7 separate regions of the Homo sapiens genome follow, and regions 2, 3, 4, 5, 6 and 7 are each reported to be linked to region 1. Evidence: microRNA targets listed by miRTarBase, many of them from high-throughput screens and not tested one by one. Region 1 holds a microRNA gene; each other region holds the end of a gene's coding sequence.

Evidence for each region. The annotated mature microRNA hsa-miR-450b-5p reads UUUUGCAAUAUGUUCCUGAAUA and lies in region 1 at 2,046-2,067, shown strand. An mRNA with a match to its seed (bases 2 to 7 or 8) in the 3' UTR can be bound and repressed. Matches are read on the target gene's strand: a 7mer-m8 pairs with bases 2 to 8, a 7mer-A1 pairs with bases 2 to 7 and ends in A, and an 8mer does both.
Region 2: the mRNA of GABBR2 is a reported target of hsa-miR-450b-5p. Seed matches in the 3' UTR shown: 8mer at 816-823 and 7mer-m8 at 2,985-2,991.
Region 3: the mRNA of TIAM2 is a reported target of hsa-miR-450b-5p. Seed matches in the 3' UTR shown: 8mer at 223-230.
Region 4: miRTarBase lists GLP2R as a target of hsa-miR-450b-5p. The part of its 3' UTR that is shown has no 7-base or 8-base seed match.
Region 5: miRTarBase lists RWDD1 as a target of hsa-miR-450b-5p. Seed matches in the 3' UTR shown: 7mer-A1 at 229-235.
Region 6: miRTarBase lists GLCCI1 as a target of hsa-miR-450b-5p. Seed matches in the 3' UTR shown: 8mer at 2,789-2,796, 7mer-A1 at 2,543-2,549 and 7mer-m8 at 2,119-2,125.
Region 7: the mRNA of CHML is a reported target of hsa-miR-450b-5p. Seed matches in the 3' UTR shown: 7mer-m8 at 1,153-1,159, 8mer at 2,929-2,936, 7mer-A1 at 3,276-3,282 and 7mer-A1 at 3,283-3,289.

What each region holds. Positions count from the first base shown.
Region 1 is chrX:134,538,886-134,542,297 of GRCh38, reverse strand. It overlaps MIR450B (microRNA 450b), which reads left to right and starts at 2,036; the gene lies at 2,036-2,113. It overlaps MIR450A1 (microRNA 450a-1), which reads left to right and starts at 1,867; the gene lies at 1,867-1,957. MIR450A2 (microRNA 450a-2) reads left to right here and starts at 1,691; the gene lies at 1,691-1,790. MIR542 (microRNA 542) reads left to right here and starts at 861; the gene lies at 861-957.
Region 2 is chr9:98,287,702-98,291,113 of GRCh38, reverse strand. GABBR2 (gamma-aminobutyric acid type B receptor subunit 2) reads left to right here. Exons shown (of 19, transcript NM_005458.8): 19 at 365-3,005. The coding sequence ends at 530. Among named protein-coding and RNA genes, the nearest start is that of TBC1D2, 34 kb to the right of the region's middle.
Region 3 is chr6:155,256,965-155,259,964 of GRCh38, forward strand. TIAM2 (TIAM Rac1 associated GEF 2) reads left to right here. Exons shown (of 27, transcript NM_012454.4): 27 at 1-759. The coding sequence ends at 157. It overlaps TFB1M (transcription factor B1, mitochondrial), which reads right to left. Exons shown (of 7, transcript NM_016020.4): 7 at 1-1,118. The coding sequence ends at 872. Among named protein-coding and RNA genes, the nearest start is that of CLDN20, 5.5 kb to the right of the region's middle.
Region 4 is chr17:9,889,516-9,892,927 of GRCh38, reverse strand. GLP2R (glucagon like peptide 2 receptor) reads right to left here. Exons shown (of 13, transcript NM_004246.3): 13 at 829-3,412. The coding sequence ends at 3,223. Among named protein-coding and RNA genes, the nearest start is that of RCVRN, 14 kb to the left of the region's middle.
Region 5 is chr6:116,592,945-116,595,944 of GRCh38, reverse strand. It overlaps RWDD1 (RWD domain containing 1), which reads right to left. Exons shown (of 7, transcript NM_015952.4): 7 at 1-2,965. The coding sequence ends at 2,844. Among named protein-coding and RNA genes, the nearest start is that of RSPH4A, 22 kb to the left of the region's middle.
Region 6 is chr7:8,086,115-8,089,526 of GRCh38, reverse strand. GLCCI1 (glucocorticoid induced 1) reads right to left here. Exons shown (of 8, transcript NM_138426.4): 8 at 447-3,334. The coding sequence ends at 2,989. Among named protein-coding and RNA genes, the nearest start is that of GLCCI1, 120 kb to the right of the region's middle.
Region 7 is chr1:241,630,817-241,634,228 of GRCh38, reverse strand. It overlaps CHML (CHM like Rab escort protein), which reads left to right. Exons shown (of 2, transcript NM_001381853.1): 2 at 1-3,412. The coding sequence ends at 433. The region is part of intron 1 of OPN3 (opsin 3); the gene reads left to right. Among named protein-coding and RNA genes, the nearest start is that of CHML, 7.8 kb to the left of the region's middle.

The DNA of each region.
Region 1 (3,412 bases):
GACAAACAGAGTTAAGGCAGTCCAAAAAATAATTACAGACAAGAAAACTGGGGCCTCTGGAGGTTAAGGATTTGTCTGAGGCTACTCTCTGGGGGCTCTTCCTCCAGGCCTCATACTGTGTTCCTTATGTCATTACCTGTTCATCAGAACCGACTATGCAGTAGTGACCAGAGCAGGAAATGGAGGTGAATGTGTTTGGTTACAAAAATTCCCGGTGAAACTGGCTAGTCTTATGATGAGCTTTGGCCTATACATTGGACACTTCCTGGGTGAGGCCCAAGATTGGCCCCAGGATTACTAAATAGTGACTATAAGTTACCCAGCCGTGTACAAGTCAATCTGCACAAACCAAAAAAGCATGATTTAAATTCATTTTAAACCTCTGTCCCATGTTTGTTATTTTCTGTAGATTCAATCAAATTATCTTAAGGAAACAAATGAAGTGTCAAGCTATAGGGGTTGACTTAATCTAGTCACTCACTCAATGGAACCTTTTTCAGCCATTGCAAATAATAATGATAGAGAATATACAGAAACCTGGAAAATGCTTATGATATCAACTTAAAAAAAATCAGGGCCACAAAATCACATGGACACCATGATTGAAAAATAGGAGCAGAACCTGGAGGAAACCTGCAAAACAGACATACTTGTTACTTAAGGGTGGTGGGATTAGAGCTGAAGTTTCTTCTTTCTCTACTTTTTCATGGTTTTGTGTGTGTGTGTGTGTGTGTGTGTGTGTGTGTGTGTGTGTGTGTGTGAGATGCCACGTTTTCTTGTTATGTTGTCAAAATATAATTCTCTAAAAAGTCTTTAGGGGTCATGGGTGATACAGAAATTTGGGATCGGTCAAGGATGCACAGATCTCAGACATCTCGGGGATCATCATGTCACGAGATACCAGTGTGCACTTGTGACAGATTGATAACTGAAAGGTCTGGGAGCCACTCATCTTCATAGCAAAACATGTGGTAAGTATTACAAGACGAATCAATGAAAAGATCAGGAGGAAAGTGGGCCCTAAGCAAAGAAGAAAGGGGTTGCTATGGGATGGGGTGGGAGGATGAGTTGTGTTTTCATAGGAGTGTAATGGGAATGCCTTTATTTGTGTCTTTATTGCTTTAAATGTTTGTTGAATGAATTGAAACTTACATAAGGTATATGATTTTATACTTGTGCTAGAATGCTAAAATAAAGAATTTATGCTCAAGCAAACAACTGGAAAACACTTTGCTATAAGCATTACAGACACAGGGTCATTTTTAGTATGTTGAGTCCACACAAGTGGTCAAGAAAAACCATAAAAACTACATGAACAGAAAGCCCCAGTTAAAAAAAATGCATAAAGATGCTCATTTCAATATTTTAAGGATGGAAGTTAGGAACATCCTGAATGACCAACAACAAAGGATTAGACAAATAAAATACAGCGTAGCTAGCTAGTACAATAGAATAGGATGCTTTCATGTAAAATAATGTTTCTGAAAGTAATTTTCATGTCATGAGAATGTGCTCCTGATAAAACATTTAGCGATTGAAAAAAGGTGCAAAATATTTTCCCATCTCTGCAATATAGGTATATAGGGAGCATTCTGTATGAATAGTTTTGTATCAACATACAGATAAAAGGCTAGGAGGAAACATATAAAAACTTTATTGTGATTATCTCTGAGTTGTGGTATAAAGGTGACCAAAGAAAGATGCTAAACTATTTTTGCGATGTGTTCCTAATATGTAATATAAATGTATTGGGGACATTTTGCATTCATAGTTTTGTATCAATAATATGGGGAAAAGAGGCTATCAGGAAGTATACCAAAAGTCTAGAGGTGGTTATCGCTGACTTGTGTCACTATAGGCAATCAAAAACGATACTAAACTGTTTTTGCGATGTGTTCCTAATATGCACTATAAATATATTGGGAACATTTTGCATGTATAGTTTTGTATCAATATACAGATGAAAAGATGGAGGGAATAAGCAAAAAATCTAACAGCGGCTATCTGTGGTTTACTTCTGTGATAAATGTAAGATGCAGAATTATTTTTGCAATATGTTCCTGAATATGTAATATAAGTGTATTGGGATCATTTTGCATCCATAGTTTTGTATCAACATATGGAGAAAAGTCTAGGAAGAAATATACCAAAACTTGTAACAGTATTATAGTATAAAATTATAGGTAATGTTTGTTTTTCTCTTTATACTTTTATGTATTTTCCAAGTAATATTTGCATAAACAATAAAATGCATTGCTTTTATAGCAATAATAAAACATTTTATTTTTAAAAAGAGTTTGTATTTTTTTTAAAGCATGAACCCCTGACATAAGGGTGGGGGAAGACTTCCTATTTGGCCAGCAGTGGGCCTAGAATACTTTTTCAAACATATCTGGGAAACCTTTGTACAACTTCAGTTGGATCTGCAGTGCAAATGTGTTTTCATTTGCTCTTGGCAAAGAAAAGAGAAAGTATAACTAAAAAATATAACCACGACAGAGTTATAATAGTAATATTAGTAAACAAACTGCTATCTATGTCTAATCAAAGTAACATTTAAAGAAGTATAGAAAGCTGAAACAGGCTCCTTTTCCTCTAGTAGCAATTCAGGAAGGTGGTACTTGGATGCTCGCCCAGGGCCTCAAGACGCATTGGCCAGTTTGAGATATGCCCAAGTCAGGAAAACACCTTATTTAGGTTATTTCCACTCAGCCAACTTCTTGCAGATGCGGGTAAAGCCCCCCCTGCATTTTCCCGCAAATTCAGCTGAGCTCCATAGTAACTCTGGTGTTGCAGAACACATGTGACACCTCAATTTAGGCGATCCTTGTTCTGGTAAGAGATGGAACCATTTGGTCACGTACCTGGCCCATGGTCTGAAGGGCACCTACCAAGGTTTTAGCGTTCCTCAGTGGCACTGATTTGGACAGAGACACATTACAGGAGGATCTAAGTTCCTTCCTATCTTTTTAGTAGCATTTTGGGAAACTGTTCCCCCACCAAGGACATATTTGGCACTCTAGCAAGTCCATATGACTAGACATTACTTTCTTTTTTTTTTTTTTTTTTTTGAGACGGAGTCTGGCTGGCTCTGTCACCCTGGCTGGAGTGCAATGGTGCGATCTCAGCTCACTGCAAGCTCTGCCTCCCAGGTTCAAGCGATTCTCCTGCCTCAGCCTCCCAAGTAGCTGGGATTACAGGTGCCCGCCACCTTGCCTGGCTAATTTTTTTGTATTTTTAGTAGAGACGGGTTTCACTGTGTTAGCCAGGATGGTCTCGATCTCCTGATCTCGTGATCTGCCCACCTTGGCCTCCCAAAGTGCTGGGATTACAGGCGTGAGCCACCGTGCCCGGCCGACATTACTTTCAAAATAGATCCATCATATTCCTTAAAGGAGAAGCTGAGTTGTGA
Region 2 (3,412 bases), not on the chromosome of region 1:
AACTTACGATATTTTCAACTTACAATGGGTTTATGGGAATGTAACCCCATCGTAAGTCAAGGAGCATCTTTTCTGCTAGGGTATTTATAATAACCACCAAATCCTGGCCCAAAGCTCGAGAAAATTCATCTCCCTTGTTTATTCAAGTCTCCCTGGTCATTCCCAGGGCAGTAGCTGGTACATATGGGCCCTCATTAAATACCTGCTGGATTGCTGAATGGTTAGATGATTGGATGGACAGATCTTGGATTCAGAGAAAAATATGCTCCTGTCATCAGCTTTTTTAGCCAAAGCAAGTCCAAGGAACTTTCTGGTAAGCGCCCAGCTACCCTTCACTAACACTCCTCCCTCTCCTTCTCTTCAGCATCCAGCGTCGGCTGTCCCTCCAGCTCCCCATCCTCCACCACGCCTACCTCCCATCCATCGGAGGCGTGGACGCCAGCTGTGTCAGCCCCTGCGTCAGCCCCACCGCCAGCCCCCGCCACAGACATGTGCCACCCTCCTTCCGAGTCATGGTCTCGGGCCTGTAAGGGTGGGAGGCCTGGGCCCGGGGCCTCCCCCGTGACAGAACCACACTGGGCAGAGGGGTCTGCTGCAGAAACACTGTCGGCTCTGGCTGCGGAGAAGCTGGGCACCATGGCTGGCCTCTCAGGACCACTCGGATGGCACTCAGGTGGACAGGACGGGGCAGGGGGAGACTTGGCACCTGACCTCGAGCCTTATTTGTGAAGTCCTTATTTCTTCACAAAGAAGAGGAACGGAAATGGGACGTCTTCCTTAACATCTGCAAACAAGGAGGCGCTGGGATATCAAACTTGCAAAAAAAAAAAAAAAAAAAAAAAAACAAAAAAACTAGACAAGGAGAGAGGCACTAGAACTCCAGCTGGAAGTCACGGAGTGGCTCGAGCAGCCTTGGGAAGAGGCAAGGAGCTTCTGAAGAAACTGCCTCTGCACACACATCACTGGCTGTGACCCCTCAGGCTAGCCCTTCTCCACTCTGGGGGAGGAGGTGGGAAGGGCCACCAGGCCCCCAGCTGCCAGGCCAGCTGACCCCAGCCTTCCTGGAACAGGGAGTCTGCAGGAGCGCAGACAGGCACAGCCCTGGAGCAGGCAGGCCGAGGGCTGCGGCACTGGAGCAGGCTGACTTACATGCTCCACATGGGACCTGTGTCACCCAATGAGATGTTTGTTACTCTGGTAAATGCCACACGTTAACACAATAACACCCATTCCTGGGACCGTGGGGATTTAGGGCACGTCACTGCAGACACGCTCTGCAGCATTCACCGACAGTCTGTCATGCACCCACCACGTTGGCCATGTCCTTGTGTTCCTATCGGATGCTCCCAGTAACCAGGGGGACCACCCGAGCTAATCATGGAATGTCTGTTCCCAGCAAACACGATAAAGAAAGATTGTGCACTTTAACCTCTCTCATCAGGGCCCAAGGGCTGGCTGGGATTTTTTTTTTTTTTTTCCCACTAACTTTGTTTCTGACCAAAGTGAATTGGAGGCACTCTGCTAAAAGACATCCCCGTAGACATAGGGGAGAGAGTTGCTGGCTGAGGGCTTCCCTTGGCTTCCAGAAGGCAGCCTTCCATCCAGACAAGCCAGTGAGCTCTCCCCTTGGGATCACTGGGGTGATCAGTCAGCAGATTGATTCTCATTCATAAGATCATTCCTCCCTTTAAATTGAGCCCCTAAGAGCACTGGCCTGGGAGTCAGACAGACCTGGGTTCAAGTCCTCAGTCCCCTGCCCACTCCCTACGTGACTTTGATCAGGTCACTAGTGTCTCTCTGAGCCTCAGTTTCCCCTCTGTAACTTGGGGTTGAACTAAAACACCTGTCCTGCCTACCTCACAAGGTCACTCTGAGGATTGAAACTTGATCTTGTCCAGGAAAGCTTTGTACCAAACAGTGAAGCCGCCCTGATCCGTGAGGTATGAGTATGACTCTGACCTTCAGCCCTCCCTACAGCCGGGGGTGTGGCCCAGAGAAGCTTCCAGCACAGCCCTCTACCCAGAACATCCGGGCTGGAGGGAGGCTCCCAGTGACTTTTCTGACATTCCTAGACAGGTTCATTCTTTGCTCAAGAAAGGCCTGAATGACAATGTCCAGGATGTCTGCACAACTGAGCAGCTCGCTCACTCCCTAAAGAAACCTATTGGCAGCTTCAACAGGCAGGCAATAATCTCTTCCCAGAACCACTGCAGTCAGGAATAAACTGTTTTCTCCACCAGGCTTTGACAAAAGGGCCCACAGGAATCTTACCAATGCCAACATTTCAAAGCACCCTATTTCACGTAGCATAGCTTTCTGCTCCCCTTCCCCAAAGAGAGGTTATGGAGGTACTGTAGCTTTTAGGGAAAAAAAAATGTTAACACATCACAGGTCAAGTTGAAGTCATTCTCTGTTTAGGCACTAAAAATCGGTGTTGTCACTCACTGTGTATTACCAGTATTTACTTGCTTTCTTGATTTCACCAAAACCAAATTTAATTTAAAGGACCACATTAATTTTTCAAAGGGAAAGAGACAATTAATTGTACATAATGTATACACACACACAAAAAAAAATACCTGTAGAAATATTATTCCAGCATAGCAGGAAAACAAACAAAAGTATTGGACTGTCGGAGGTGAGCCTGTGCGTCTGTAACCCTTTGTGACTCCTGAGCGTGCGCTGTCTTCTAGGTTAACTCACGAAGTACATTCTCTGTCTTACTGATACTGTAGGTTCACCCATTTTTTTTTAATTTCCTCGCAAATAACAAGACCCACAGAAGTGACTCTAGCTACTTAATGGTTCTGTTCTTTTATATGCAGCAAACACACCGTCCATTTCTGAAGAGGCTTCGGCCTGAAGGCATTTTCCAATGATGTTAGTGCACAAAACGCTTTAAATTAGACTGGAACTGCCAGAATCAAATGTAAATGAGGAATTTCTCGTACCCCTACTGCATGGTATCGATTTTTAATAAATTGTTGCAAATTTGTTTTTATGAATAAAAGGAAAAAACCTGTCGTCTTTAATGCCTACTCATCCCAAAATGCAGGTCAGATCGGGCCATATTCCTCCGCTTAGAAACTCAGGGGACAATTCTGGGGTTGCCTGCTCAGCATTGTCCCTTCCTTCATAAACTGCCCATCCCAGCCTCCTGCTGACAGCGGCAAAGCAGCCCTGTTACCAGGTGACCCCAACTTCTGGCCACAGCTGATTAATTCGAGGGTGGGAATTTGACCTAGGCTGGGCCGGTAAATCACTTCCTCAGGATTCCTCCATGTAGAGAAATTTAGTCTGCGATGAAACAGAAAAAAAAAAAAATGGAGCCAACAGAGAGACAATCAGGACCAACAGCTGAGTTCTGATGGTGTCTGAGTACCTGGTTAGCGGTCCCTTCCTGCGCTCCTCT
Region 3 (3,000 bases), not on the chromosome of region 1:
CAAGGCGCAGATCCGTCACCAGTCCCTTGACAGTCAGTCTGAAAATGCCACCATCGACCTAAATTCTGTTCTAGAGCGAGAATTCAGTGTCCAGAGTTTAACATCTGTTGTCAGTGAGGAGTGTTTTTATGAAACAGAGAGCCACGGAAAATCATAGTATGATTCAATCCAGATATGGGTTAAATTCCTCATTTTACTTTTAAACTGGTGGTAAAGTGGAAATTGCAAAAAAAAAAAAAAAAAAAAACTGTTCATTCCTGGGTTTTGTGCAGTATACATTTTCCCACAAAATGGTTGTAAAGATTTAAGTTATTTTAATTTATTGTGGATCAGAAACCTAGATGAAACTGGTCAGAATCTGTAAATTACTTAGTTTATATCCACTTTGAGCAGGTATCAAATGATTTAGGATCCTTAAAATTACATTCTAATAATTAAGTTATGTGGAAAAAGTAAGGCTGGGGAAGTCGTGATTAATAGTTTTCAAAGGGCCATTTTTTAAAATCCTCTGGGCATTTTCTTTCAGCTGTTTGTTAGTTTTTGCTTTATTTAAAGCATATTTAAGTTATTTTAATGTGGTTTAGGGGCAAAATGTGCAGATACTTCATTTTTGTAAGATAGATTGTAATAGATGCTGTTTATACTAAACATGTCATAACTATCTATACAGTATATATTAAAAGAAAGCTTGTACTGTATCTTATTTGATGATATTTATTTTCTCTGCCAAGCTGTATAGTAAAAGGAAAATAAGTCACATCTGGTCATTGGCATTTGTATCGTCATTCTGTAAAGACAAAAGAGTACCTATATAAGAAGCTCCACGTAGTGCAAATCGACATCTGGTAGGCTGCTCGCCCCCAGGCAGCAGCTAGAGTCTGTAATTCTCTGCGTCATCCTCTTCTTTTTCTTCATTTTTGCTTTTTCTTCGCTTGAGTTCTTCTCTGAAATTATATGCAAAGAGTTGTGGGTCTTCATCACACATTTTTCTGTATACATCACAGAGGCTCTTAAAGTGTGAGATGGAGAGCTGGCGGGGCCGAAGAGTAGGGTCTATGTCTGCCAACTCTAACAGCCTGCCCGTGCTTTCCAAGCGCTGCGCTTCAGGGAATAACATTCTGAGGGGAAGACAGACAGACAGAAAAATAAGAATTTTACTTAAATTCTGCAAATCATGACACTTTTTAACCCTCATTTGAAAACAACACAACACAGTTGCTGGCTACTGACAGCTGGAGAGAGTGGCAGGAGCCTCTTGGATTATATAGCACCAGATAAGAGGCACGGCCCGCCACTGAGGCAGCTCTAACCTGAGGCGCGAGGCAAGCACACAATGGGAAAGCATTCTCCAAAGCTAAATCAGTACATGTACTTTTTAAAGGTAAGTAAGTAAGTTTAAAGTAACATCTGCTCAGCTGCATTCTTGTAGAAACATAAGCTTGATGTGCCTCATGTTTCAATGTGAAAGTTGTATTATTTCTTGTGTGACAAATCATCAGTTTTGATTCTCTAGAATTTGAATGTATCAGCCTTTAGAACTCTTCACGCTAAAAGAGTTACTTTTTTTTGCTAAAAGTTTGAAAATAGCTGATAGGAAAATATAATTATTCCTCTTGTTATTTTTCAAGCATCTTTAAAACTGATTTGAAGTAGAGGATATATTTTAAATTTCATCTATCCAAATTGAACCATTGTTTTAAAATGAATAGCAGAACTGCTTGAAATGCTGCGGAGTTAGGCCTGGATTGCATTTTTCTTCAAGTCTCAGGGCTCTTACAGAGCTCATCCCAAGGGGCTTGGAAGGTGTCATGGCCAGGGGAGATAGATAGCATGTTGCTTATAGGCTGATGGTCCTTTCAACAAGGAATTGCATGTCCCCCACACTTTCAGGGTGAGGTGACAGATCTTTGAGTTCAGTTTCATGGCAAAGAGGGCCTGATGATGGCAGTTTCTAATATCTGAAGAACACCAATAAGTCAAAGTCCTTTGACCTGTTACCCTGGGTGGCACAGTATCTGGTCCATGTCTGTCCTGAGGATGGTGTATCTGAAATGAATAGGGCCCTTCACTTAGCTGGGGGGTTGCCTTGGAAACGCTAGTGCCAGCTCTAGGCTCAGACCAATTCCAGGATTTCCAAAAGCACATAAAAGGACATAGTTTTGTGCTCCCTCCTCCCCCATGAATCAGGGCTATCAGGTACAGCTGTGTGGGTCCTGCTCTGCGTGAGGGGTAAGTGTGAGCCAAAATCCAGCTTCTGTTTCACTCACCAGCAGTGCACAGTAGCTGGGGGCTGCAGCCAAAATGGCTGGCCAGTGGCATCTCTGTCACCAGCTCTGCACCTTAAGTCTCTGCTAGAGAAGCAGGAACTATCTGGTAAGGTGGGAATTCTGGCTTAATTAGAGGCAACAAGTGGCAGGCTGAGGCTCCAGCTTCTGCCATCTGGCATCCTCAGCAATGGGCTTTGTGGACTGCAGCACTCTTAGGAGCTGATGCCCAGCTGGCCCCTAAAATAATCTGCTGTCATTTCATATGCTAAAGGGACACTTCGGACCTTGTGAAAGAGAGAATTACAATGAAGCCATGTGAGGAGGTTTTAGAAAATGAGAAATATGTGCCTCTCACGCCGAGCCTCTTTAAACAGCGGACTATGGATAGATTATCGTAGATGGAAATCTTTTACAAATACACTTTCCTGCCTTCTTAAGCAGACTATCACTGGGCTTAACTAAACAGCTTCTTGGCTCTTTCTGGATCTGCAACAAGGCTGTGGTCCTTCAGAGCCCATCGAGGTGGGCGACCTCTAGACCACCAGGCCCTGTCAGGTTTTCCCAGTGATTCCTGAGAGCCTCTTGGCAGCAGCAGCTTTCTGTGAGATGGAAACGTGCTTACGTGAGGACTTCGTGATATGATTTTGGCTGCTCAGAAGTCATATTTGCTTCCTAGTTCTCAAGTGTGTCCTTAAAGAAGAGATAGGGCAACTCGGTAGAAAGCAAGCATTTA
Region 4 (3,412 bases), not on the chromosome of region 1:
AAAAAGATGGCTACAATGGTTAATTTTATGTTATATATATTTTGCCACAATTTAAAAAAGATCACTCAGGAACTTATAAAAATCCCAATGCCCAGGTCTAGTAAGACCATTTCAATCAGAACCTCTGGGGTCAGACCCTGTCACTGGTCTTTTAAAAAAGCTTCCCAGGGGGCTGGGCGTGGTGGCTCACACTTGTAATCCCAGCACTCTGGGAGGCCGAGGCAGGCAATCACCTGAGGTCAGGAGTTCAAGACCAGCCTGGCCAACATGGTGAAACCCCGTCTCTACTAAAAATACAAAAAAAATTAGCTGGGCCTGGTGGCTCACGCCTGTAGACCCAGCTCCTCGGGAGGCTAAAGCATGAGAATTGCTTGAACCCGGGAGGTGGAGGTTGCAGTGAGTTGAGATCATGCAACTGCACTCCAGCCTGGGAAACAGAGTGAGACTGGGTCTCAAATAAATAAATATAAATAAAAATAAATAAAAAGCTTCCCAAGGGATTGTAATGCGAGGATTGAGAACCACTAGACTAGATCTTCAAAGCAACAGGCAAGCTGAGTGACCAATGGGGTGGTCTATAAAAGGGGAGACACTCTCCTTCCATTCTTTTGACCTCTGACCTCTGCTTCTGGTCCCGGCCCCTCTGCCCACTCCTCTGGTCCCTAAGACCAAATTTAAGATATTGGAGCACCCAGGTCCCTGGCTAAACGCCACAGCCCTTTTCCTCACTTCTGGCCAGGAATAGTGCATCGCATTCTTCATGGGTGGGAGAGACCTTCAGCTCCAGTGAGAGACAAATGTAAAAGAATCAACAAAATGCAAATGAAATTAAATAAACTTGTTTTAATCATTAGCAGAACAAGAGCAAGCAGTAAGTGTTGATCACCCCATTTGTGGAGTGAGGGGTGGAGGGAGTATTTATAAATGCTTTGAAAAAAAGTTTCTCCTCTTAGCGGTAAGGTCCTGGATCACTTACTCCCAGCAGCATCCGAGGCTCCCGAGAGCCATTTCTGTGCTGTCTCATTCCAGGAATGTGTGTGGAGCACCTGCTCTGAACCGGCACTGTGCTGGGTACTTGCTGGGAATACGAGATGACCCCAGCTTTCTAGGAGCTAATTGGCTGATGAGCCGAGGCAGGGACATTTGCAGAAAGGAGAAAAATAGAAAGACATAGATTTTCATGACTGAGCTATGGATAATCTGGACACCAAAAAATAAACCTTTGCTTCATTACTTGCCTGATGCCTTTGCCTCCATCCCCATCCTAAAACCAGGGCTGGACTATGGGGTGACACAAGTGGGGATCCCATTTCAAGTGCAAAATTTAAGGGGGCCCCAAAAGTCCCCATAGTCAATATAAATAACATTTTAATGCAATTGTCTAAAAATAAAAATTCACATTAAAAGTCCCTCATAGACAACATTTGAAAGTCAGGACCAGAGCCTGCACTTGCAAGAGCTGGCCTCTCCTGCCTCACCCTTATCCTGCCCCTGGCTCCAATCAAATTTCATTTCTATAAATGGCTCATGGGCTGTAGTTTGTTAATTTGTTTTTTTAGAATATTGCATTAAAATATGATTTATTTTGATCATTTACTTTGAGCTTTTTAGAGATGAGTGCCTTGATTATTTCACCCTAGTCCCAGCCCTGTGGCAAAGTATCCTTGAAAACAGAGATGCCAGTAAAAGACAAGATGCATGATTGAATTCCAATCTCAGATTAAATATGCCCATGGGATATACTTATACAAGAAGACTATTTGTCTGAAATTCAAATTTAATTGAGTACCTTGTTTTTGTTTGCTAAATATGGCAGCCCTGCTTGAGGAGTATCAAACTGACTCCCCCGAAGACAAGGTGGTATTTAGTCCCATAGCAACATACCCCACCCACGTACACATGCATTTTACATACCATGAAAGTGACACTCCTGTGCATTAACACACTGTTTCCAAAGGATGTCCATCCCTTGATCTTCCTACAGCCTCTTGCCCTATACTTTCAGTCATTGAGCCTGACCCCAACTGCCTGGGCCCTCCTCAGCCTCCATGGGTCACAGTAGGCAGGAAAGATCCCACAGGCTGGTGGATGCAAAGTCTTGGATCTCTCAGAGCCACCCTGGGCATGTCCAGATCCAGCCAAACTCCTATTGCTTTACCTGGGCCCTCCTGCTTTCAGTATTTATTCCCACTGGGCAAATTGAATTCTGATCAGCAGGGACTCTGGCCATGGAGAGTTATAGGTCAACTTCCTGGGACAACAGGTGTGACAATCAATGCATCAATGGCAAACCAAAAATGGTGGGGACATTCCTTGCCCCAAGAGAATGGTAGTGTAAATCAGGCTGGTAGAAGCCAAACTCAGAAAGGTAGATAGAGCCAGAAAGGAGAGGAACAGACCAAAGACGACATTCAGAGGGTCCCCAGGCACTGGGGCCAATCCTCAAAGGGAGGATCAAGCAGAACTCCTGCTGTGCAGGGACAGAGAACTGAGGCAAAGAGAGAGAGAGGCAAGACTTGATAGGAGAGGAAGAGCAGAGAGGAGTGGCACTCTGGTGGGTGGAGTTACATACTCTCCAAGGAGGGCAGGCACACCCCAGCTGACCTGGGAGAGCAGACTGTCTCTTGCAGCATCCTGCCATGGCCACATGGGGGCGCTTCTAGCTCCCTCTCACCCTGCCCAGTGTTCTCCAAGGGTGGGCTTGCAGCAGAATTACCTGGGATGCTTATTAAACAGCTCCAATTCCTGGCCATGGTCCCAGACTCACTGTCTTAGAATCTTAGCCACAAGTCTAGGATTCTGCATTTTAAAAGCTTCCTAGGAGGTTTTCACGCACCCTAAACCCAACCTCAGATGGAAAGCATGCACCCCAAGGGATAAAGGAAGAGATATTGGCTGGCTTCTCTATAACAGGAGACCTCTCTTCATGGTGGGACTTCATTGGCTTGAATTTAGAGCCAGGCCCTAGGGTCTGGTGGGCATTGTGGAAAACACACTGGTGGGGGTTATTAGGATGAGAAGAGCAGGCAGAGGCTGTGAGCATGACACACAGCCTCTTTCATACAGAGCTTGAAGAACCTTGTGATAGCTTTCATATCAAAGTGGCATGGTGAATGGAACGAGAATGATTCCGTGCCCAGCAACGTGTGTCCTGCTTTGCTTCCTCTTCCTGGGCCCCCTCAAGAGTCCCTGGGAGCAGAGCCAGGGTGGTGGAACTCCACCCTAGATCTCACTCTCTTCCAGAATCTCCTCCATGGTGTTGGCCATGGTGACATCCCCCTCACTGCACTCGGACAGGCTGCTGCCCCGGGGCCAGCGTGCATGGTCCTGTTGGGGCTGGGCGCCCAGCTCCCCAAGACCTCGCATGGCTAGATGTAGGAGCCGCCCACTGTTAAGTGAGGGCTGCAGCTTC
Region 5 (3,000 bases), not on the chromosome of region 1:
TTATTATCACTCCTCTTAGTTTTACCCCAACTGGGAAATGTTCACATAACCATTTAGACGTGTTGCCTTAGATCAGCATTTATCCAACTTTTTCCCTAAGGCATCCACCTCTGCTGGCAAAAGTGCATGAAGTAAAGCAGGATCAAGGAACATTATTCCAAGTTGTAGATGGCAAATACAACATTTCTTTGAACTCTCATGCTTTACTTTAAAATACATTAGAATTAATTTTGCACTCTATTCTATAATTCATTCATTCAACAAATATTAGGGACCTACTGCATGCCAGGCATTATTACAGGGATACAGTAATGAATAAACATATCTGTGTTTGTTTTTAACCTAGTGACATTTTAATACAACTGGCACGAGTAGAAAAACAAAAACTTTACCAAATCAAAGAGCAAAACCGATAATCCAAGATGGAACAATTATTGCTTCAAATACCACTCGTCATGCTATTGCAACCTGAGAGTATATTTGCACCCATTTGAGCAGCATAGTCTTGGGCTAATTCCCAGAATACAAAGCCAACAGTAAATATTTACTCTAGATGAAAATATTTGAGAATGTTATTAGAACTAACTAGGTTATTAGAAGACAACTAGGTTGTCTTCATTTTACCATTAGATTCTGCCTTTAGGTTCTGAAATGGCAAAGGTGGACATCCACTTTAATACCTGGAGAAATATATAAAATTTATTCTTAAAAATCACATGAAGTGGATGGGAGGTTATCATTCTTGACACTTCAAAGTTAAGTCTTGATTTCAGCACCACATTGCTAACAATTGCTTTTTATTTTTTTTAACCTTAATTGAGCAGCTTCTTCCAGGTTCTTATGTATCTGCTGATCAGCTTCAAAAAGATGGGAAAAGCAAAATCTCACATAGGACAAACTTTTGGATTTCTCTCTGCAAAGAAATGCTGAACATTCCTGTTGTTATTCCATTCTATTGGTCTGGGATCAAGGCTGACGTGAAGATTCCTTGAAAAGTATTAAACTCCTCAATGGTAATTTTATCTTAAATAATTTGCTTTTTGATTATAAGGTCTAACTCCAACAATAAATGAAGGCTTAATATTGCTGTTTGTGGGTATGTGGCATATGTATTTTTTACTGGAGGCAGCTCTTTATAATAGCTTTATGAATTTAAAATAGCACAACTGATTTCCTATTGGGGTTAAGAGTCAGTCCTCCAAAACTGTAGTGACTGAATAACTTGCATGAAGACTGGCTCTCCTACCTGGAGCCACCAAGTCAATCATCCCAAATTATTACAAAGGACTCTATGTGCACGGATGTTAATGTGTTTCTCTTGCAGACAATGTACGATCCCCAAAATTCAAACTCCTTCAGACTGGTTAATTAGAGAAGAGGTAAAGAAAATACCAAAATATATAGACTTCACGACTACAGGACAGTGGTTCTTAACCCAGATTGTGCATCAGAATAATCTGTAGAACCAGTATGAGATTTTGCTGTTTTAAAATTCAGACTGGGGATCAGTGTTCATAAATCTAACTTGAGAGGGGCCTAGGAATGCATACCTTTTAGAAACTCCACAAATGATTCTAATTTAAATACTGTAATTTAAATTTTAATTTAAATTCTAATTTAAATACTTTAAGACTGCTATGGTTTGGATATTTGTCCTCTCCAAATCCCACATTGAAATTTAATCCCCAGTGTGGTGGTGTTGGGAGATGGGGGCTGGTGGGGTGTTTGGGTTATAGCAGGTAGATCCCTCATAAATAGATTAATGCCTTCCTGTGGGGAGCAGGGGTGAGGGAGTTCCCACCAAAGCTAGTTTAAAAAAAAAAAAAAAGCCTGGCACTTCCACCCTCACTCTCTGGCCATGTGATCTCTACACACATAGTGCCTCTTCCCCTTCTACCATGAGTGGAAGCAGCGTGAGGCTCTCACCAGATGCAGATACCCAATCTTCAACTTTCTGGTCATCCAGAATTATGAGCCAAATAAACCTTTTTTTTTTTTTTGAGACGGAGTCTTGCTCTGTTGCCCAGGCTGGAGTGCAGTGGCGTGATCTCGGCTCACTGCAAGCTCCACCTCCCGGGTTCACGCCATTGTCCTGCCTCAGCCTCCCGAGTAGTTGGGACTACAGGTGCTCGCCACCACACCTGGCTAATTTTTTGTATTTTTAATAGAGACGGGGTTTCACCGTGTTAGCCAGGATGGTCTCAATCTCCTGACCTCGTGATCCACCTGCCTCAGCCTCCCAAAGTGCTGGGATTACAGGCGTGAGCCACCGCACCCGGCAAACCTTTTATAAATTACCCAGCCTCAGATATTCCTTTACGGCAATACAAAATGGACTAAAAGGAAGGCTAAACTTCATCTTACTTATGATCATAATATGGCCTCCTGGTTTTATCAAGACTTAAATTTAGTGTGCCTGGAGGCTAGAATCTGGATGGTTTAATGTGCTAGTCACCTCAGTTTTCTCACACTTCATACAATGCTTGAAATCCAGAAGTAGCCAAAGTCTCCAGCATAGAAATTCCAAGTTATTCCAATTTCCTGTGTATAAACTCATGTGCACAGCAGCAGCCTACCTTCGAGTCTTGGTGCTATAGGCAGGATCTCTCTCAAATACTAGGTGATTTTAAATACGTAACCTTGTGCTCAACAGTAAGAAGCCTTGAACATTTTATATTTGAAATTTTAAGGTCAGTTTATTAAGTTCAATGATGAAAGCTATCAGAAGAATATTCTCCTGAAAATAATTTTTTCTTAGAAAAAAAGAAAGGAAAATCATAACCCTCTGAGCATAGCCACAGATGCTGTGGCAGTCAAGCCTCTCTGCAGATGGGGACAGTCCATTAGTCAGCTGAGTCACTCTCTGGGTCAGCAGGATTATAGTCTGGATCATCTTCATCATCCTCCAGCTCCAAGTCATCCATTTCTTGGAACAAAGACTCATCTACCTCCACGTTGTTTCCAGCTGCAAAAGGCAACCAAAAAAAAAAAAAAATCTCC
Region 6 (3,412 bases), not on the chromosome of region 1:
TTTGTAAAGCTTTTCTCCACCTTATTCTGAATCTAAACAAATAAAAAAGTAAAAAATTAAATTTTATTGCTGCAGCTTTGCTTGCAAGAAATATGCAACTTCCTCTGAAATGATTTCATTGAATTTAAACTCATTTCTATAAATTCTGAGGTATAAAGTGATGTGAGAACAATGTTTTCTCTATTTAATGTGATCATACCTGGGAACAGTACCAAGACTTGGAACTTAAGACCTCTAGCTTCTCACCTTGTGATGGAGAGTGTGTAAGTTAAATGCCAAGAGGAAGCCAGGTTGTAGAAATCTGATCCAGTTAGACACCCCACACCTCCAGACATGCAGGCCAGGAACTCAATGAGTACAGAAAACTACCATTAACCTGAGCTGAATTTCTCTCTGTCGGGTAACGAGCCAACAACCCCAGTCTTTCCAAAAACATGTGTGAACTATTTCAGTTTTACTAATAACTTTATTTAAATAAGACACAGGAACTTCTATACTGAAAAAATACAAAACAAAAGCCACACATTTCCTTGTGTAAAGCCATATTATATGGTAACTCAAATACTGTTCAGCGCAATGGCTAGAATTAAACAGTACAATTATATACAAAATTTAAACAATTTCTGACAAATTTCTACAGCTGGATGTAGGATACATTTGAGCTCAACAACTTCTGGGAAATTTACATGGCAAAGCGTAAGCTTTAACACATTTGGTTCAAAACTTTAATATATGCTAAGAACAAATGTACAACACAATTAATATTTAGTATCTCATGAGAAAATAAAAGCACATCACTATAAATATCGTACATGAGATTTCATCACCAAAAAAGCATATTCAGTCCATTTTTCTGAAATTGATATTGATACTATTGCATTTTATTTGGACAAAAGCAGAGTGTAAGATCAACATATTATGTAATGCTAAACCAGACATCAGAAGTCAAATGGAGCTCATATTTATCTTACGGAACTAGTAATTTTCCCCCTTTAACCATAATCTACAAAATATAGTATTTTCATCAAGGCCTGAGATTATTAGGGTTAAAGGTATCTGCTGCTGAAAAGATTGTTTTAAAAGGTTCCCCTGTGAAAATGACGAAAGTAAACTGAGTCCTTTTTTCCATGACAGTCTCCTACAATATAACACTGACTAATTTAAAGGAGCCAGAATGCACCTTCAGGAGAAAATATTACGACAAACTTTGGTGGAAAGAAGAGAATTGAGATCATGACAAAATAATGCACAGAATACACACACACACACACACACACACACACACAAACATATACATATATATATCATTTCTTAAAAAAAAAAATCAATGGTGTTGCTTTCTTCTCTATCACTCATCCTTCTTCAACCTTCTTAGAAAATAAAAGAAAAACCCAGGAATGAATGAAAGGAACTGAAACGTTCCTTTAACTGTAGGCACCTGGTTCCCCTAATTCTTAAGAAAATTGTGCCATACACTTTAGGCGCAGATGAAACAACTCTAGGTTTTATTGAACTGAAAGTAGTGGAATACAAAAACTTAGCTTTTGGATACTCTTTGTACTGAAGAAAACAATGAAAGTTAGGCTCTCCCATTGACCAATCAGGAATGCCTGGGGCTCTCTTCACACTTTGTGGAGAACTTGTGTCAAAAGTCTGCAAGTTCAAGGCTATTTTCTTGAGTTTATGCTCTACCTCACAGGTTGCAAATTTCAAAACTACTCATGATTATGCATTATGAGAGGCTTAAATGAGATAGCTTCAAACTATTGCTCTTGTAAGTCACCAAAAAAACCTGCTTATGTTGCATCAATTCTGAGACCCAAGTATTCTATGTAAATGAAGATCATGCACCTAAACTGCTTGAGGAAGACAATAACAAAAAGTATGTCACTTTTTCACCTGCAAAATAAAGAATTTCCAAGGGAGAAACTAAATATAAATATGTCTTTAGATAAAATGGTAACAGTTATGACCCTGATGGCTAACATAAACAAAAAAATCTCAACCATTCCGTCAAACACTTCACTTATTTTGAAATTAACTCTAGACATTCTTGTCTTTAAATTTCATCACACACAATGTGGAATGTTTATGTACAGTCCAGTACTGAACACTTTATTTGCAACATTGTCACAGTCCTTTACTGAGCAACACCTGAACTTTTAAAAAAGCCACATGTACACATGTTGAAACAGTGAATGCAACAGTTGTTTTACTTGTAACCACATGACAAAGTGATGTCAAACACCACAGATTTTGCTGGTTCTCCTCATGTTCACCCATGTCCAGGATTATCATTCTCCTAGGATTGAATGCACTTCTTATTCTAAGAATGTGGAATGTAATGAGGAAAGGGAAATGCATAAAATAAGGAAAGGCAAAAGAGTGATGTTCCCTCTTTAGCTTTTTAGCTGTGAAATATTTAATATCCCAATATGATATACATTCCAAGTTACCTGAGTTTAGACTTCAACTGAAGTACCTGAAGCTAGGCCATAGGGTGGGCACTGTGCAACTGTTGTGGCCATTTTTTTTTTTTTTTTTTTGCATTGTATGTATTACAGAAGTTAGAAACAAACACCTGGATCAATTGTAAACATAATCCTGAATTACAGTATTTTCCATAGGACAAAACACAGCAAGACATTTTCTATTTAGACAGGCAACTTTTTGATATAGAGCTTATTTATACTGAAGAATCTGGAACAAAACACAGGACACAGTACTAATCTGTCAAATATACTATGAAATGCATAGTCTCCACTTAAAATGCTGAATGACACACACGTTTTGCAAGCATTACTGCTTTCCACAAAAACTGCTGAATAGGAGTTCCGTCCCTGCCAAGATCAGTGTTTAAGAGATACTTTATGATGCTGATAAGTATTATTGGTGGTGGTGGTGTTCAGAAAGTTTGTCACTCATGCAGATGTCTGAAATCTTGTTCCGAATCCATGGAACATAGGGTGGAGGCCAGCTCCCCCTTTTTTAGATGATCACATAGTTCTGAGCAGAGATGTGGTCCTCACCCTGCAGTTCCTGCAGGAGCTGCTGCTGCTGGGATGGCTGCTGGACAGAGGCCTCCATGGAGCCCGCTGTGCTGGTGTCATCAGAAAGAGACGTAAAGGAAACCCGGGATGAGAGCTGCTCAACGGTCAGAGTTGCCAAAGCTGAGCTCTGGCCAGAGTTAGGGGAGTTCTTGAGCATAAGGTCAGAAGCAGGTAAGAGGGGGCCTAGAAGTTTTACAGGACAGAAAGCTGATCCGGTTGGGATGAAATTAACCTTGTTTTTGTCAGGACATGAAAAGAGAGGGGCCGAGATAGGCTGACGAGACCTAAAACCATAAAACAAAATTAGATTTATAATCATGAACACAGAAAAAGTTAAGCATTTTCTGAATTAACTGGAGTTC
Region 7 (3,412 bases), not on the chromosome of region 1:
ATCTTCTAAAACAGCAAGAGAAGACTTAGAATCAGTGGTGAAGAAATTATTCACTCCGTATACTGAAACAGAAATAAACGAGGAAGAACTTACAAAGCCAAGACTCTTGTGGGCTCTTTATTTTAATATGAGAGATTCCTCGGGAATCAGCAGAAGCTCGTATAATGGCTTGCCTTCCAATGTTTATGTCTGCTCTGGGCCTGACTGTGGCCTGGGAAATGAGCATGCTGTCAAGCAAGCTGAAACACTTTTCCAGGAGATCTTTCCAACTGAAGAATTCTGCCCTCCACCTCCAAATCCAGAAGACATTATCTTTGATGGTGATGATAAGCAGCCAGAGGCTCCTGGAACCAATAATGTAGTAATGGCCAAACTAGAATCCTCTGAGGAAAGCAAAAACCTAGAAAGCCCAGAGAAGCACCTTCAAAATTAGAAAAGAGCAATCTCGAAATGCTGTTTTGGACCTCCTTCATGGCATCAGAATTTTCTCATTTAAAGGACAGTTTCCCATATGAGTAATTAGAAGTGGTTATATATGATGAATGCTATGCAGATGTTGTCTTTAACTCTCAGACATTCAGCATTGAATATCTTTGTTAACCTATCAATGAGTGATTTATTGATTATTGAACATTTTGTTTAGAATGGGCTATATGACCCAGAATCTTAAAACAGAGTTAGCTTTATTTTAGTATTGGGTATATATGTAAGGGTTCCATATTAGCAACTCAGCTTAAAGGTAATGTATTTGCTAATGATCTTCAGATTTTATCTTTGTCTACAGAACAATTAGTAATACCCAAGTAATATTTTAATTACTTTTGCAGCTGTTACAGTTGCTGCGGCCTGTTCGAATAGTGAAACATACACAAATGGTAAATTATGTGGATCTTTTGCATATAATATAAATGTATAGACATGGTGGTAGGAATAGCAACTAATACAAATGCCAATATGATAATAAAATACATTTGTCTATAATCGTTTAAAGATTAGCTTTGCATGATCCTTTATGCACTGTGAAGGTCTGAAGTTTATAATACTCACTTGACCCTTGTAACTGATGAGGCAATGATGCCACCACAGTATTCTAATTTACAAAAAGAATTGGAGTTCAATTAGTGGTTGTAAAGCTCATTTTGGGGAGGTTGATTGCAAAGGAAATTTGAAAGATAAGATTTATTCTTATTTAATACTTCAGAAAATTTCTGCAGAGCCCTGCCCTGGCACTTAAAATAGCTTCCAATAAGTAACTTAGACCAAAAGGAAAAATGAAGTGCCCCAGGAGAAGATACTTCAGAAGGGCTGTTCTGAAATTCCTAAGGAGGAATTCTTAGGAATTCCTAAGGAGAAACAGAGTGAGGCCTTTTTAACCTGAGATTACAGATACTTATAAAACCCTCTATAAATAGATTACCCAAGGTTTTTCAGTGAGAATGAAACATACCACCTTGTTGGCTCTACCACTTTAATTAATATCACTATAACATAACTGATAGGAATGAATCAAAGGAGGATTTACCATGCCCTTTCGGTTGTGTCCCACTTAACAAATTGTGAAGTAACAATTTTCTGTAATCTCTCTTGCCTCTTAGCTGTTATCCAGAGTATAGAAACTTTTTTTCTCCCAGAGCCACCCAACGTCATAAAACTGGTAGTACTCTAATGGTGAAAACCTGTGGAGCTGTCAGAAGACATGAACTTGCTTTTCCTCTAGTCCAGTTTCCATTCTTCAGTCAGAGTATGATGATCCCTGTGACAGTTTTTGCTCTGAAATAGTATTTATCATGTGTTTGGTACCTAGTATTATGCTTTCTCATGACAGTTTCTCAACAATCCTGTGAGGCAAATTCGCATGTACCCTCTGTATTAGTGTGTTCTCATGCTGTTGATAAAGACACACCTGAGATGGTAATTTGTAAAGAAAAAGGTTTAATGGACTCACAGTTCCATGTGGCTGGGGAGGCCTCACAATCATGGTGGAAGGTGAAAGGCACGTCTTACATGGCGGTGGACAAGAGAGAATGAGAACTAAGTGAAAAGGGAAACCCTTTTAAAACCATCAGATATCGTGAGACTTATTTACTACCATGAGAACAGTATGGGGGAAACAACTCCATGATTCAGTTATCTCCCACCAGGTTCCTCCCACAACACGTGGGAATTATAGGAGCTACAATTCAAGATGAGATTTGAGTGGGAACACAGCCAAACCATATCACCTTCAAAGAAGAAATAAGAGAATTATTAGTAATTTGCTCAGAATCTGGTATGTGGAAGAGCCAACATGGGGACCCAGCCTTTTGTGATTCTAAAACCTTTGATCTTTCTACTAACATTCACTGTTAGAGAGTGTAGGCGCTGCAGGAGAAAGAGAAAGTGCCCACGAAAATTAGTCTAGCATTGCCGGGGGTAAAAAGCACACACTGGTCCTGCAGCTTATTGAATCAGAGAAATGTGAAGATAAGATGAACTAAACAAACATATTTTAGAGCATGGATCTCGAAGCAGAATTTGGCTAAATTTTAACAAAATGTTCTTCAGTAACACATCTCATGATCTGAAGATTGTGTTACAAAAAATATTATCAGGCCAAAATTTGTTCGGAATACACTAATTTTTGCTCCTCTATATGTGAGGAAAATGAGACTAGACAGATTTAAGTAATTGACAACTTACTTAAAGTAGCAAAGTCATGGATTGTATTGACTTTTAAAAATATAGTAAAAGTCATATTTAAACTTTATCCTAAAGTTTAAATCTAACAGAACAACTGAAATACTTGAAATAGACCTATAAAATAGTAATTAAAATGAGAAATACATAAGATGATAAATAAAATGAAGGTGAAGGTATTCCAGATCTACCGAAAAGATTTTCAGTATCACAGATTATTCATAAGAAATTGAGAAAAGGAACAATCAGAAGTTGCAAAAGATGGTATAGCCGAATATAATGGAAATAGGAAAAATTAGTCGAAAATAAAGGTTGATTTAGAAATGAAGAAAATGAATATATTTCTTAATACAAAATAAGTGGGAAATGAGAAGTTATACCAATAAAAAGCATTTAAAAATTTAGGGGATATTGTAACCCAGTATAATTTTCTGACAGGTTGGACTTTGACCCTAATGGACTTACTGGTGAACTTTTTCAAATGTTTAAATAATGTCTATCCATGTATCATGAAGGACAGTATGCTTCAAATTGTCTTTTGAGGCAGACATGTTCTCAGTACTAAAAGACATTTTTAGAAGGATTTTATTCTCAACAGATGCAAAATGCAAAATAAAATATTGGCAAACAATACAGCAACAAATAATTTACTATCACTCAGGATTATAAGGCTGGTGTTAAGCAGAACAGCCATTAAATCAGCATCAAAAGAACAAATAGTAAAATCCAAAGTATT